3 separate regions of the Homo sapiens genome follow, and all the other regions are linked to region 1. The links come from fine-mapping of genetic effects on gene expression. A gene starts in region 1. Each other region holds a variant in brackets. All regions are shown on one strand. Distances are between the middles of the regions. Region 1 holds the start of BAZ2B-AS1 (BAZ2B antisense RNA 1). Region 2 overlaps BAZ2B (bromodomain adjacent to zinc finger domain 2B). Region 3 overlaps BAZ2B (bromodomain adjacent to zinc finger domain 2B).

Evidence for each region.
Region 2: its variant is fine-mapped to the expression of BAZ2B-AS1 in whole blood (TOPMed, PIP above 0.99).
Region 3: its variant is fine-mapped to the expression of BAZ2B-AS1 in whole blood (TOPMed, PIP above 0.99).

What each region holds. Positions count from the first base shown.
Region 1 is chr2:159,613,167-159,618,393 of GRCh38, reverse strand. It overlaps BAZ2B-AS1 (BAZ2B antisense RNA 1), which reads right to left and starts at 3,100. Exons shown (of 2, transcript NR_110588.1): 1 at 2,941-3,100; 2 at 352-2,644. It overlaps BAZ2B (bromodomain adjacent to zinc finger domain 2B), which reads left to right and starts at 1,846. Exons shown (of 37, transcript NM_013450.4): 1 at 1,846-2,152. RefSeq lists enhancers at 1,757-1,826, 2,077-2,156, 1,784-2,310, 3,367-3,895.
Region 2 is chr2:159,549,662-159,554,888 of GRCh38, reverse strand. The region is part of intron 2 of BAZ2B (bromodomain adjacent to zinc finger domain 2B); the gene reads left to right. Among named protein-coding and RNA genes, the nearest start is that of BAZ2B-AS1, 63 kb to the left of the region's middle. The variant G/T (reference allele first, on the strand shown) is at 2,583.
Region 3 is chr2:159,577,194-159,582,420 of GRCh38, reverse strand. The region is part of intron 1 of BAZ2B (bromodomain adjacent to zinc finger domain 2B); the gene reads left to right. Among named protein-coding and RNA genes, the nearest start is that of BAZ2B-AS1, 35 kb to the left of the region's middle. The variant C/G (reference allele first, on the strand shown) is at 2,353.

The DNA of each region.
Region 1 (5,227 bases):
ATATTATAAGGAAATTATTGTCCTTATTACAGTTATTAGGTAGTTACTCAAATTATAGCTTGAAAGGAATGCAGAGCATGGAAAACTCAGGATTAAATTATGCATTTGAACCTTAGGCCAGTTTTTACTGTAGAGACAGTTTGCTGCTAAAAGAGAAATTGTATGTCATTGAAATTAAATGCTTTTCTGGGGATGGAAGATTCCAGTTTTTAATGAAATTACTGAGTGTGGTGTAGTGAAATGATTAAAATCTGTATTCCGGGAATGTGGCAGGGAAAAAAAATCAATAAGTGCTAGCACAGCTTTGCTGCTCAATGTGAATCCTGAGAATGAAATAAACTACTACAAAAATAATAATTAAAAACATATCAGCACATTAATTTATTTAGCATCAGTCTCCTGAGACATCATCTTCACTAATTTTTAGCATACATTTTACTCTGTAATGAGCAGCCTTCTTTTCAGATATCCCTATTAGACAGGCAGTATTTCTGCCCTTCCCCCAGTGCTCCTGCATTGCAATCATTGTACTTGCACTTATTATGTTACAAATGACCGAGGTAAGGCTGACATTCTCAGTGCATGCAAAAAGACCGAGTCTGCCAAGCTTTTTTTTTTTCCTAATGAAGCAGCTTTGTGAAATCTCCCCATGTGTTAATACTAATGAAGATCCTCCAGCACAATTAAAATCACAGCCAGTGGCTGAAGAGGAAACATAAAACAATAGCATCTTTTAAGATACATTTATCCACATATGTATAAAATATACATAGATGATCAAATTATTCTCCGATAGCTTAATTTTTACTTACTCTTCATCCTGAAAATTAAATTATGCAATTTTTAATTATATGAACTTTGAGACTTTCTTGTGTTCTGGAGGGAAAAAACGGTACCTCAACGAACTTCTAAAAAAAAAAATACGTATCTTCTTGGCTAATAAAGTGTTATCAAGATTAAGGCTTTTAAAAAAATTGTTTTTAGGAATCTATAGGATGGGGTGCGGGAGGGAATGGGGCCTATTGTATCTTTAGTTTAACTTGATTGGTTGCAGGATTTGGGAATTGGGGTTGGGGGAGTGGAAGGGTAAAAACAAAGTTGGAAGAGATTCTGGGGGTAGACCATAGCATATGACTGCATTTGTAGTTTAAAGGAGCAAAGGGCTACCAGTCTTACTCATAACTTGATTTTTAAAAAGTGTTCAGTGCCTACAATTTGCTATGCTTTTTTTCTAATCTCTCAGAAACTTGAAAAAAAGCTATCGAGATTACCTTTTACAGTGTGTGCATATAACTTTAAAACGACTATTTTAACGTCTTTTATTTAAATTTTATTTTAACTTAGTGCATAAACATTACAGCCAGTTTAACTTGTCCGTGGAAAGGCAGTAGAATTTTACCCCGGGACCGTCTTGCATACTGCTTTTTTTGAGTTTTAACATCCGCAAAATCTTGGCATATTAATTTAGTTGGGTTGTAGAATTCTGAGTTTAGGAACAAAAAAAATTTAGGTGGAGATGGTTGACCTATGCTCCCTACTCTGTAGCTTTTGTTTTTTTAAAAACTAAGTTTTAAATCCCGTTTTCTGTCCTGTCTTCTTTAAAAGCAAAACAAAACATTTTAAGTTTCTTAACTTTTTCCTGGGACAAGGAACGGTGCAAACTCAAAGCTACAGTATTCTTGGAAAGAAGAAGCAACCCCCTCCCTTGGCTCCTTTAGGAGCTGATAGGTCATTTATTATTGGAACTGAAATGGTATAAACAATTCTCTCTCTTTTTTTCCCTTGTTAACAGCAACTTTCATTGTTAGAGAGAGGAGAGAGAGAGAAGCCTTGTTGGTTGACGTCACTTGGTTCATGAAGCCTTCGCCTAGAAGTGAAGCTGCTGAACAAACCTTGAGAAGAATCATCTCCTGCTTCAATCTGCTGCTGGATAGGAACTAATCAGAGAGAGAGAGGCGGAAGACGGAGAAGGAGGGAGTCGAAGGCTTTCCCGATCACAAATCTCACCTCCACTACAACTCTCTTTATACTTTTCTTGCAGAAATAATAATAGAAATAAGGAGGTGGTGGGGTTTCCAAAAATCTTAACCTTCAACCATCTGGGGAAAAGGCAAAAATCCCATCTACCGCAACTCTCAGTTCGAGAGTAAAGGTGAGTTTAAAATCCTCGGGCGTGAGGGGTGCGGGTGAGGATGTAAATTCCCAGTGTTACAAAGCCGGTGGAAACAGCAGCGGAGAAACTGCGCTCGGGCAAGCGGGGGACTCCGGAGTTGCTGCGTGGAGGCGCTCGCCCCGCCGCCCTCTCGCCCTCCGCCGCTGTTTATCCTCGCCGGTCGGTGCGGCTCTTTGTTGTGGTGGCCGGAAGGCTGGGGTGGTTCTCGGGGTCCCGAGTGGAGTTTGGGGGAGGAGGACACGGAGATGTGCCGTCCTGGGTGGGAGGTGGGGGGTGCGGCCTCAGGAGAACGTAAACTTTATTCCTAGAAGCCGGTGCGGGACTTCGCTGGAGTAGGGCCGTGGGTTGTGCTCCCGGCCGGGCAGGCGCTGCCGCCGCGAGTCCGCCGCCTTTGTGCCGGCCGCCCTGGCTTCGCGTCTCCTTCCTCTTCCCCTTCGGCTTCCAGCGCTCAGGTCGCCGCCAACAGTTTTGCTTCTTAAAAAACAACCTCTGTCAGCGTTGCGATGGCCGTTCCTACCCCGGAATATCCGCTGCTCCCCCACTCCCTGCCGGGGTAGTTTCTGGATCACCCCCCACCCCCGTCCGCCTCCTGCTGCCCTTTTTTGCCTCCGCCCCCTCTTCCCTGTCGGACTGACGAGCTGCGTCTGCCACCCCCACTCCCCGGCTTGGGCCTCTAGCTCTCCCGTGTGTAGCTGGAGGCTCTGAGTTTACTGAAGATGAGCGGGGGTGGGGGTGGGGCAGGTGGGATTGGGAAAAGATCTGGATACCTGGGAAGGTCTATGTCAGCACGCAGAAGGTTTGAGGAGCATTGCTTCTCATACAGTAAGGTCTGTGCCTTGGTCTCATGTTTTAGCAGTTCTTCCCCGGGAACGACCGCCAGCTCCCAACTCCTCTGCTTCCCTCTTTTAATCTTCTTGTCGCTACCCCTCCCCCCAGCCCCCGTTCTCTTTCGCGGCTCCCTCCCCTTTAAGTAGTTTCACGAACCCCAGAATTGGGATTTGAGAAGGGGAAGGAAGTGTTTGAAGAGTCAGAGCTGGCTCTGTTGTTTGGGAGATTTTCTCTTCTTTTCTTTCTCCCTCTGTATTTATCTTTTGTCTGTTGCTTCCTTATAAAGAGGGAAGCAGCTGCAGTCCTTGGCCGAGTTGTTGAAATTTATCCCTTTGTGTATATTACAATATCCTCCATTTTTTTTCCTGCCCTCTAAACAACAAGCGTTTCGCCATCTTGGGCAATTTTATTCCCAAGTCTCTCTCTTTTTTATTTTTGAGGAAAGGAAAGAAGTATTAGGAAGTGTGTCTGGATAAGTCTCAAAGTTTAGGGAATGTTCAGGGGGCCCAGTGACGTCATGTAAACTTTACGGAGAAATTTTCCCAAGAGTAAATTTTTTGCTTAATTTTTCTCCTGTTTTATAGGATTGTGTAACTTACAGGTTACTGATAAGTTGTGTGGCTTATTTTTGTGTTTTGCTCTCAAAATCAGTATACGAAGTCTGCGTATTGTATGTTTTGGTAACAGGTGGAAGATTATATGCAAAAAATGGTAAAAAACTTGTGCGTCATTTGTTATTTATCTGGTTTTTGTGTACTTTTTTTTTTAATTTAAAGGTTTCAACTGTTATCTGTAGTCAGTATATTCCCTTTCTTATTTGCTCCACTCTCCCTTATGGATTTTTTGAAAATTAGCTTGGTTAATATTTATGTATGGTTATTTTAGATTATCTGGCTCCCCGTTTCTAATAAAATGTTCTGGGGTTTTCTTTTTCTATTATTTATTTACATTTTGAAAAGAAATGACTATGGAAAATACCTTAAGATAATGGATACTTTAAAATTTAGTAGCAGATATTAAGTCAAACAATTATTGAGTATTTAAGAGGCAGAATTGATTTTAAAAGTTATTTTATAATCGCTAGCTATAAACTCTTTGTCAGCCATTATGAACAGATAAACAAAAACTAGCACTGTTTTAATTTGCTTGTCTAACATAGTTTTTCGCCTCACAAAAGTTGGTTTGGTCACATGACCAAGCTTAATGATACACTGACTAGTATATAAATAAGAGGCACTGTATATTGAATGGGAAAGTGGAATTCTGTCTCCTGTAGTCATTTTCAGTCAGCATATTTACATCTCTTCTAACAAGGACATGAAACTGTCTGTATTTAATTTGCATTCTCTTTGTCTTCTGGGTTGAGGGAAAAACACTGACTACAATTAACTTAAAAAAAGCTAATAGAAACAATTCTGAATACATTGAAAAGGTTTGTGTAACACACAGAAATTTATGTTCTATATGGTAAGTTTTTATTTCTGTAGCAGTCTTCTTTGGTGTTATCTATTTATCCAGGAATTTGCTTCATGTAATATGCTATATAGAAAGCTTGACTGAGTTGAGTGTCTGCCATTTATGTGAATTGTAGGTAGGTGAAAAATGTTTAAATAGTTAAAAGCACATAGAACAGATGGTTCTAAATTATACATGCAACAAAGGACTAGAAGATTTGGCAGATTATAAATGGCAAGCAACAGAGGATAAGCAGTTTAAGAAAATGGTAGTTAAGTACATTTGATGTCTCACACCTATTGTAAACACTGTACATATTATTGTCACTCTGCTGCATAATCAGTAATTTGGACAACATTAAGACACTCGTATGGTTCAGATAGAAAAAAGTAATTTTTACAAGTATTTGAAACAAGTGGTTGAATTTAAAATTATTTTAAGCCTACGATGATGAAGAGTCTTTTTTTTTTTTTTTTTTAGAAAATCAGATTGTATGCTTTAAAAATACAAAGTTATTTATGAGAACTTAATATTGTGTTCTTATAATGGTTGGAGAGAAACAGGAATGGGTACATATTTTAAAATCCAGATAATAGTAGCTTCACTGTTCTCACATGTTAAACTAGTGCCGAATTGTAGTACCATTTACTCTTACAAACACTAATGAAAAAATACTTCTAAACTCTTCAGTCTTGGAAATGCATTTATTGGAATACTGCTGGCATCATTTATGAAATACTTATTAAATGAAGGAAGGATATATTTTAGTTT
Region 2 (5,227 bases), 64 kb after region 1:
CTGTTGTGTGTAAGGACATATATTACCTAAAGAAAAACTTTTCCAGGGCCTTTATCCACATTAGAAAATTCTAAGTGATAAAATCTGAATTACAATCATGAACTTTATATCATTTTTGAAAAATTCTCTTAAATAACAGATAAATAAATTTCTACCAAATTATTTACTCCATGATCCTGCTTCTTCAACTGTTTTAATTTAACTCATTAAATCCAGAAGCATTAATTATTAGAAGTATAAATTCACATATCAATAATGTTTTTATTTATGTTCAATCTTTTTTTTTTGAAAACTGGTTCATTTGTTAAGTTTAACATTTTGCAGAGACTAGAGAGAAATTTTATTTATTTTTAAAGGCTTTATCATCATAATTTTGTCTACTAATGCTTATAGCATATTTTATTCATTTTCCTGAGGCAGCATTTTAGCTTTCTTTGATTTGTAGCTCTTTCCTTGTTTATTTTTTCTTAATTAGAACTTTATTGCCCTAACTGAATATTTTATAATAAAATATTGACATATTTCTATAGAAACCTTCTGTTTAGCATCTAGTGCTTTACAATCAAGGAAGTTAACATTAGCATTAAATGAAACCTTTTTTAAAATTTAAAAATGCTGACTCCCACAGCTTATTTTTATTTAAATTTTTTTTCCCACAGTTTATTTTTAGGGTAACATTAAGAGAGTAATTAATTGCAACTGATCTAAATCCAAGAATTTCAGGAAGAGAGGTGATATTTAATATTATTAGATGTTAAATATCAGTTAAAGAGTAAGAAGTGTTCATTTGAGAGGTTCATAAGTGACTGATATTAGAAACCTTAAGTTTGTTATGACACTGTTGTGAGGCTTTTGCTGGCCCTTTGAGTTAAGAAAAGAGGGTAGATTTCAACATTGATTCAGGTTCAGAGTGCTAGTGAGAGAGTAGTTCAAATATATGTTTACCGTGTGGCTGGAATAAAATGAGGCCAGGAAAGGGCTGATTTATCCAAAGGAAGTAGAGAGATCAGGAGACTAGTCATAGATCCATAAACTGGTATAATGAGATGACATAGTAAGAACTAAAAGTAAAATGTTATGGTTAGAGAGGGAGATTATATTATGGGTTGTTTCAGAGCTGAAGTGTAGTAGCTATTTATATATTATGTAATATATACTTTATATATGTTTTAATCAAAATTTTCAGAAGTCAGGAGAATTGCTGTTTTTTTCTTTGATGTCACAATCCATATAAATGTCAAAACCTTTTAACTGATCTCCCTTCTTCCTGGCCATTATCAATTCCACTGAAACTTGTACACAACTCCCAGTTTGATCTGATTAAAGCATTGCTCGGTTCCTTTTATTTCTCTACTTGAAAATGTGTGGTGGCTTCTCATTTCCTATGTGATCAAATCCAGACCTTCTAACTTGGTATTTAAGATCCTTCCTCAGTTTGTCTTCAGCATATTTTCTTTTCTTTCTTTCTTTTCTTTTTTTTTTTTTTTTTTTTTTTTGAGACAGAGTCTCACTCTTGCCCAGGCTGGAGTGCAGTGGTGCAATCTTGGCTCACTGCAGCCTCTGCCTCCTGGGTTCAGGTGATTCTCCTGCCTCAGCCTTCCAAGTAGCTGGGATTACAAGCAGGTGCCACCAGGCCCAGCTAATTTTTGTATTTTTAGTAGAGACAGGGTTTTATCATGTTGGCCAGGCTGGCCTCGAACTCCTGACCTCAAGTGATCTACCCGCCTTGGCCTCTCAAAGTGCAGGGATTATAGGAGTGAACAACTGTGCCCAGGCTGTCTTCAGCATATTTTCTATTACTCAAGAATAAGAACTGTACACTCTACCTAATGTGGACTACATTCCCTACCTTGGATACACATTTTGGCTCCACACTTACATTCATGCTATTCCCTTTACCTAGAATATTCTTTTTCTTTTCACACTTAAAAAAATTTCTTCTGGTGAAATCAAACTGTCTCTCTAATACCATATCCACATATAATCATCTCCCTGAGGTTTTCCCTAATCATCCTTGTTCTCTGTTCCTAATAGTTTGGTAATGCTTAATTTTTATTACTCCAGGGTTACTGATAACATAATTGTATTTAGGGTACTTATTTTAATACACATCTTACGATACTCAGCAAATGTTTGTTGGCAATCATAATAAACCAGAAAGTGCTAAATCAATTAGTATCTTTAGTGTTCTTATATTAAAATTGAAATAAGGATATTAATACATTAATATAATTTAACCACAGGAAGCAGGGTGGATAGAAAAGAGCTTAGATTTTAGAACCTATAGAGTTCAAGTACTAACGTCACTGTGTACTAGCGATGTGACTTCTAGCAAGTCAGCCTCTTTGTGCCTCAGTATCTTCACCTATAAAACGATGCATTATTTGAATTTAAAAGGATTATGAAATTTAAATTCAATTTTTATTAGCTTTCCTCCCTCTTCGTGATAGAATTTTATGGCTTACTCCTTTACAGATAACACCAATGGGCGTGAAATCTACTATAAAGTTCAGTGATATATCCTAAACATTCAAATTTACCTTACTTACAAATTGTGGCCATTTTGTCTGTTTTAATAAATA[G/T]ATTTCTACATTATGTATATTAGTGATAACTTTATTGACTTTCAGCAAGTTTCAGCAAGGAGGCCAATTGGACCTATTAATATAATGTTCTTTTATTTGAGGAAAAGGGAGTCAGAGAACTAGAATGGCAACATCTTAAAAAACCAAAATGAACTATAGAATAGTTTAGAGTACTCTGCATTCCCCTTAGGTAATGGGCGAGAAAACCAAGGTCTAGAGAGTTTGTGGGAAAGTAGTGCACATAATAGTTAAGGACATGGACTTGGGGTTAGAAAAACCTTTGTTTTAGTTTGTGTTCTGCTACTTCTGTAGCTGATGTGATCATGAGTCAGTTTCTTAGTCTAAGACCCAATTTTTTCTTTTCTAGAGTAGGGATAATATTATTATGTCTGGAATATTAAATAAACATTGCTCATAAAGCACTTAGCACAAAAGATGGCACATACTACACTTTTCTTACCCTCATCATACTCATCAATATCTGTAAAGTTACTTGTCTAAAATTACATGATTTGAGAACTTGGACTAACCTGACTTTGCTTTATCCTGTTAGAATTTTTACTGTTCTGTTTTGTGATCAGTTCTTACTTGATTAAAGGTGTCTAAATAGCATTTATAGAAAGTATAATAAAATAATTCAGAGGTTATTTTCTTAAATCTCCCTTAATCCTCTGTCTTCTCTGAGCGTATTTTTGCAGTTGCATTTACATGCAGTCTTGTTTATATGTAATTTCATTATTATAGTGGCTATATTTTATCTTCAGATATTCTTATTTAATATTTTACTGTATATTTAATAATCTGTCCTAAGGCAACTTTTTTTTTTTTTTTTTTTTTTTTGAGTCTGAGTCTCACTGTCACCCAGGCTGGAGTGCAGTGGTGTAGTCTTGGCCCACTGCCAGGTTCACCTCCCGGGTTCACACCATTCTCCTGCCTCAGCCTCCTGAGTAGGTGGGACTACAGGTTTCCGCCACCACGCCCAGCTAATTTTTTGTATTTTTAGTAGAGACGGGGTTTCACCATGTTAGCCAGGATGGTTTTGATCTCCTGACTTCGTGATCCGCCCACCTCGGCCTCCCAAAGTGCTGGGATTATAGGCGTGAGCCACCGTGCCCGGCCGGCAACCTTTTAAATAAAGTGGCTTTTTCTGTTTTTATTAAAATTTCTTGCCTGGGCACAGTGGCTCTCACTCCTGTAATACCAGCACTTTGGGAGCCCAACAGGGGGGATTGCTTGAGCCCTGGAGTTAAAGACCAACCTGGGCAATATAGTGAGACTTTGTCTCTACAAAATAATAAACAAAATCAGCTAGGCATGGTGGCTCAAGCCTGTAGTCCCAGCTACTCGGGAAGCTGAGGTGGAAGGATTGCTTGAGTCCAGGAGTTCAAGGCTGCAGTAAGCCAAGATTGTACCATTGTACTCCAGCCTAGGCTACAGAGGAAGACCTTGCCTCAAAAAAATTTTTTTTTCTATTTTTCTCTTTGGTAATTTTATTATGAATATTACTTAAATTTTGTAGAGATACACCTCTCCCAATAGTAATACTTAATAATTGAGATGTAGAAGGAATTGCTGTATAACTTTATAGTGTACATACTGTCAGAAATACTGGTGTTAGCTAGTAAATTTAAAATGTCAGGTACCTACCACAGAGAAGATATAACCAAGTATGGCATGATTGATAGTTGTCCCTAATACTGGTTTTCCCCCTCTTCTAATTTTTTTTCCGGTATATCACTACCTAGAATAAAAACATCATTTCCCCAGTCTCCCTTGCAGCTAGGTATAGTAATCTGGCTAAATTTTGGCAAGAGATATATAGGCAGAAGTAGTGTGTGCAACTTTCAGGATGTATCCTTAAAGGAATGGGTGCACATCCTCTTTTTCGCCCCCTTCCTCCTTGCTGGCTGAATTGTGAGCATAATTGGACTGTGAGTGGAAACCCTATACTGAGAATGGGTAAAGCAGCAGTAAGAAAGAAAATCCTTACTAACATGATGTTACACTGTCCCTACTGGCCTGCCTATCCCTGGATTTCTTTGACATGACAGAGATAAAATTCTGTATTGTATGAGCCATTCACTTTTGGGCTTTCTGTCACTCCTGGCCAAAACTAATCCTGATACACCAAGCTAGCTTGATGAAGAATGTTTATGCCATTGTGGCCGGATGCGGTGGCTCACGCCTTTTTTAATCCCAGGACTTTGGGAGGCTGAGGTGGGTGGATCAGGCAGAGGTGGGCAGATCACTTGTCTGGAGTTTTGAGACCAGCTTGGCCGACATGGCAAAACCCCATCTCTACTAAAAATACAAAAATTCGCCAGGCGTGGTGGCACATGCCTGTAGTTCCAGCTACTCAGGAGGCTGAGGCAGGAGAATTGCTTGAACTCGGGAGGCGGAGGTTGCAGTGAGCTGAGATTGCACCACTGCACTCCAGCCTGGGCTACACAGCAAGACTCTGTATCAAAAAAAAAAAAAAAAAGAAAGAAAAAAGTTTATGCCAGTGTGAAAATGTCTTTTTTTTTTTTTTTTAAACATCTCACTTGTTTTATTTGAACTCTACTGTCTCCATGGTTTAAGTCAAGCTTGTCCAACCTGTGGCCTGTGGGCCACATGCAGCCCAGGACAGCTATCAGTGCATCCTA
Region 3 (5,227 bases), 36 kb after region 1:
AAAGTATGTGAACTTACCCAGTGCATTTATGTTTTCTGGTGGCTACTTATTTGTATTACAAAGCGATATATTCTTACCGGAGAAACTCAAATCTGTCCATTCATAAAGTAAATATATTCCCTTTGGCCCTGCTGATGGCAGTTTCCAGAACTACTTTAAAATGGTTTGCTGTACATTCTTTCAGACCTTTTTAATATGCACATGAATATATATACTTATTTTTTAAAATCTAATTAAATATGCATTCTGCAGTTTGATTATATATTCTACCTATGCAACAGAAGTCTGCCATGTGAATATATATAAATACGTTTTCTTTAAAAGGATTATACAGTGATGTGTAAGCATTTTTTTTATACTTTAAGTTCTAGGGTACATGTGCACAACGTGCAGGTTTGTTACATATGTACACATGTGCCACGTTAGTGTGCTGCACCCATTAACTTGTAATTTACATTAGGTATATCTCCTAATGCTATCCCTCCCCCCTCCCCCCACCCGACAGGCCCTAGTGTGTGATGTTCCTGACTCTGTGTCCAAGTGTTCTCATTGTTCAATTCGCACCTATGAGTGAGAACATGCGGTGTTTGGTTTTCTGTCCTTGTGATAGTTTGCTCAGAATGATGGTTTCCAGCTTCATCCATATCCCTACAAATGACATGAACTCATCCTTTTTTATGGCTGCATAGTATTCCATGGTGTATATGTGCCACATTTTCTTTATCCAGTCTATCATTGATGGACATTTGGGTTGTTTCCAATTCTTTGCTATTGTGAATAGTGCTGCAATAAACATACATGTGCATGTGTCTTTATAGCAGCATGATTTATAATCCTTTGGGTGTATACCTAGTAATGGGACAGCTGGGTCAAATGGTATTTCTAGTTCTAGATCCTTGAGGAATCACCACACTGTCTTCCACAATGGTTGAACTAGTTTACAGTCCCACCAACAGTGTAAAAGTGTTCCTATTTCTCCACATCCTCTCCAGCACCTGTTGTTTCCTGACTTTTTAATGATCGCCATTCTAACTGGCATGAGATGGTATCTCATAGTGGTTTTGATTTGCATTTCTCTGATGGCCAGTGATGATGAGCATTTTTTCATGTGTCTGTTGGCTGCATAAATGTCTTCTTTTGAGAAGTGTCTGTTCGTATCCTTTGTCCACTTTTTGACGTGGTGGTTTGATTTTTTTTTTCTTGTAAATTTGTTTAAGTTCTTTGTAGATTCTGGATATTAGCCCTTTGTCAGATGGGTAGATCGTAAAAATTTTCTCCCATTCTGTAGGTTGCCTGTTCACTCTGATGGTAGTTTCTTTTGCTGTGCAGAAGCTCTTTAGTTTAATTAGATCCCATTTGTCAATTGTGGCTTTTGTTGCCATTGCTTTTGGTGTTTTAGTCATGAAGTCTTTGCCCATGCCTATGTCCTGAATGGTATTGTCTAGGTTTTCTTCTAGGATTTTTATGATTTTAGGTCTGACATTTAAGTCTTTAATCCATCTTGAATTAATTTTTGTATAAGGTGTGAGGAAGGGATCCAGTTTCAGCTTTCTACATATGGCTAGCCAGTTTTCCCAACACCATTTATTAAATAGGGAATCCTTTCCCCATTGCTTGTTTTTCTCAGGTTTGTCAAAGATCAGATGGTTGTAGATGTGTAGTATTATTTCTGAGGCCTCTGTTCTGTTCCATTGGTCTCTATGTCTGTTTTGGTTACTGTAGCCATGCTGTTTTGGTTACTGTAGCCTTGCAGTATAGTTTGAAGTCAGATAGTGTGATGCCTCCAGCTTTGTTCTTTTGGCTTAGGATTGTCTTGGCAACGCGAGCTCTTTTTTGGTTCCATATGAACTTTAAAGTAGTTTTTTCCAGTTCTGTGAAGAAAGTCATTGGTAGCTTGATGGGGATGGTATTGAATCTATAAATTACCTTGGGCAGTATGGCCATTTTCACGATATTGGTTCTTCCTATCCATGAGCATGGAATGTTCTTCTATTTGTTTGTGTCATCCTTTATTTTGTTGAGCCGTGGTTTGTAGTTCTCCTTGAAGAGGTCCTTCACATCCCTTGTAAGTTGGATTCCTAGGTATTTTATTCTCTTTGAAGCAATTGTGAATGGGAGTTCACTCATGATTTGGCTGTTTCTCTATTATTGGTATATAGGAATGCTTGTGATTTTTGCACATTGATTTTGTATCCTGAGACTTTACTGAAGTTGCTTATCAGCTTAAGGAGATTTTGGGCTGAGACGATGGGGTTTTCTAAATAAAAAATCATGTCATCTGCAAACAGGGACAATTTGACTTCCTCTTTTCCTTATTCAATACCCTTTATTTCTTTCTCCTGCCTGATTGCC[C/G]TGGCCAGAACTTCCAACACTATGTTGAATAGGAGTGGTGAGAGAGGGCATCCCTGCCTTGTGCCAGTTTTCAAAGGGAATGCTTCCAGTTTTTGCCCATTCAGTATGATATTGGCTGTGGGTTTGTCATAAATATCTCTTATTATTTTGAGATACATCCCATCAATACCTAGTTTATTGAGAGGTTTTAGCATGAAGGGCTGTTAAATTTTGTTGAAGGCCTTTTCTGCATCTATTGAGATAATGATGTGGTTTTTGTCTTTGGTTCTGTTTATATGGTGTATTACATTTATTGATTTGTGTATGTTGAACCAGCCTTGCATCCCAGGGATGAAGCCAATGTGATCGTGTTGGATAAGCTTTTGCTGCTGGATTCAGTTTGCCAGTATTTTATTGAGGATTTTTGCATCGATGTTCATCAGGGATATTGGTCTAAAATTATCTTTTTTTTGTTGTGTCTCTGCCAGGCTTTGGTATCAGGATGATGTTGGCATTAAAATGAGTTAGGGAGGATTCCCTCTTTTTCTATTGATTGGAATAGTTTCAGAAGGAATGGTACCAGCTCCTCTTTGTACCGCTGGTAGAATTCGGCTGTGAATCCATCTGGTCCTGGACTTGTTTTCGTTGGTAGGCTATTAATTATTGCCTCAATTTCAGAGCTTGTTATTGATCTATTCAGGGATTCAACTTCTTCCTGGTTTAGTCTTGGGAGGGTGTATGTGTCCAGGAATTTATCCATTTCTTCTAGATTTTCTTGTTTATTTGCGTAGAGGTGTTTATAGTATTCTCTGATGGTAGTTTGTATTTCTGGGGGATCGGTGGTGATACCCCGTTTGTCATTTTTTTATTGCGTCTATTTGATTCTTCTCTCTTTTCTTCTTTATTAGTCTTGCTAGCGATCTATCAGTTTTGTTGATGTTTTCAAAAAACCAGCTGCTGGATTCATTGATTTTTTGAAGGGTTTTTTTGTGTCTCTGTCTCCTTCAGTTCTGCTCTGATCTTAGTTATTTGTTGTCTTCTGCTAGCTTTTGAATTTGTTTGCTGTTGCTTATGTAGTTCTTTTAATTGTGACGTTAGGGTGTCAATTTTAGATCTTTCCTGCTTTCTCATGGGCATTTAGTGCTATAAATTTCCCTCTACACACTGCTTTAAATGTGTCCCAGAGGTGGTGGTATGTTGTGTCTTTGTTCTCATTGGTTTCAAAGAACATCTTTATTTCTGCCTTCATCTCGTTATGTACCCAGTAGTCATTGAGGAGCAGGTTGTTCGGTTTCCATGTAGTTAAGCGGTTTTGAGTGAGTTTCTTAATCCTGATTCCTAGTTTGATTGCACTGTGGTCCTAGAGACAGTTGTTAAAATTTCTGTTCTTTTACATTTGCTGAGGAGTGCTTTACTTCCAACTGTGTGGTCAATTTTGGAATAAGTGCGATGTGTTGCTGAGAAGAATGTATATTCTGTTGATTTGGGGTGGAGAGTTCTGTAGATGTCTATTAGGTCTGCTTGGTGCAGAGCTGAGTTCAATTCCTGGATATCCTTGTTAACTTTTTGTCTCGTTGATCTGTCTAATGTAAGCATTTTTAAATCATTCCTTTGTTGAGGGACATTTTGTTTGTCTCTCATTTTGGGAAACATTGGGTTATACAGAAGTATTTTCTGTTCTGCATTATGGATCTCCAAAAAGGGCAAAGGGTGTGCACAATTTTCTGAACTTATTTTACCATAGAACTTTTCTTTTTTTTATGAACTGTGAATTTTTCAAAGAGTGTATTGTATCACTGATCCTCCATTAAAAGTATTTGAAGCTCTTGTCAATCTTCTTGTTTTACTTATAAAATTAAGAGTTAGTAGAAAATTGAAACCACAGTCTGTTTCTTGACTCTGTTGTTCAGTGTTGTTCCTTTTGCTTTGAATTTTTGTCTTCATTTAGTACTCTTTCCTGAATTCAAATAAGAAAGCTAAGCACTAGAGTTTTTATAAGGGAAAAGAACAGTTTTCATGTGTTCATACTAGGGAAAGTTAAAGTTTCTATGTCTTTAGGTTTTTCTTTTTGTCAGCAGGTGATATCTTGGTAGGTAATTAATGACAAGTGAAAACAAGTGAGGTTTCAGACAATTTGATGTAGCTTTCTTTAAATTACTTAAGTCCTCTAACATAAATGAACTAGTTCTTTTCTCATGTTGAATAATTCTTTTAATTACTTTAAGAATAGCTTGAAAAGCAGTATTATAAGTTTCAGTGTGTTTAGTAAGTTTCTTAGCTATTTCTTTAGCCTTTCTCCTTCCCATTAAGGTACCTACTTTTATTTCTTGTGGTGTATAAAAGGACTTTGGTCAATCTAAACTGAAGCAGATACGTTTTAAGATAGAGATATTCTTGAGTCTTGTCACATAATTGTTATTATTTTTCATCTTTCCCTAGGCTGTCAGGTTTCTCTAATCTTAGGGCACATTTAAAGTATTTTTCCTCCCTAACTGAACATTTGCTTGGATCAAGCAGATCATTTTGTGTAGTGAAAACAATCATTGGACCAAGAACTGGTATCCTCTTTTAGTTCTTTGTTTTTCAAATTTATTTAAAGAAATCAAAATAGTTTTTTTCTGATTATAAAGGTAATGCATACTTACAGAAAGTGTAACTAATGCAGAAATAATTTTTTAAAGACAGTTAAGTCACTTAAAATTCTACTATTTGGAGCTAACCTCTTTAACGTGGTAAATGCTCTTCCCTGTAAATATACACACACATTTATAAAAATAAGGTCATACTCTACTGGTTTGTAATTTTCCTTTTTAATCAATAATATGTTTTGGAACATGTTATTTTTTAAGTAAATTTGTTTTAGAGATAGGATCTCACTCTGTCACCTAGGATGGAG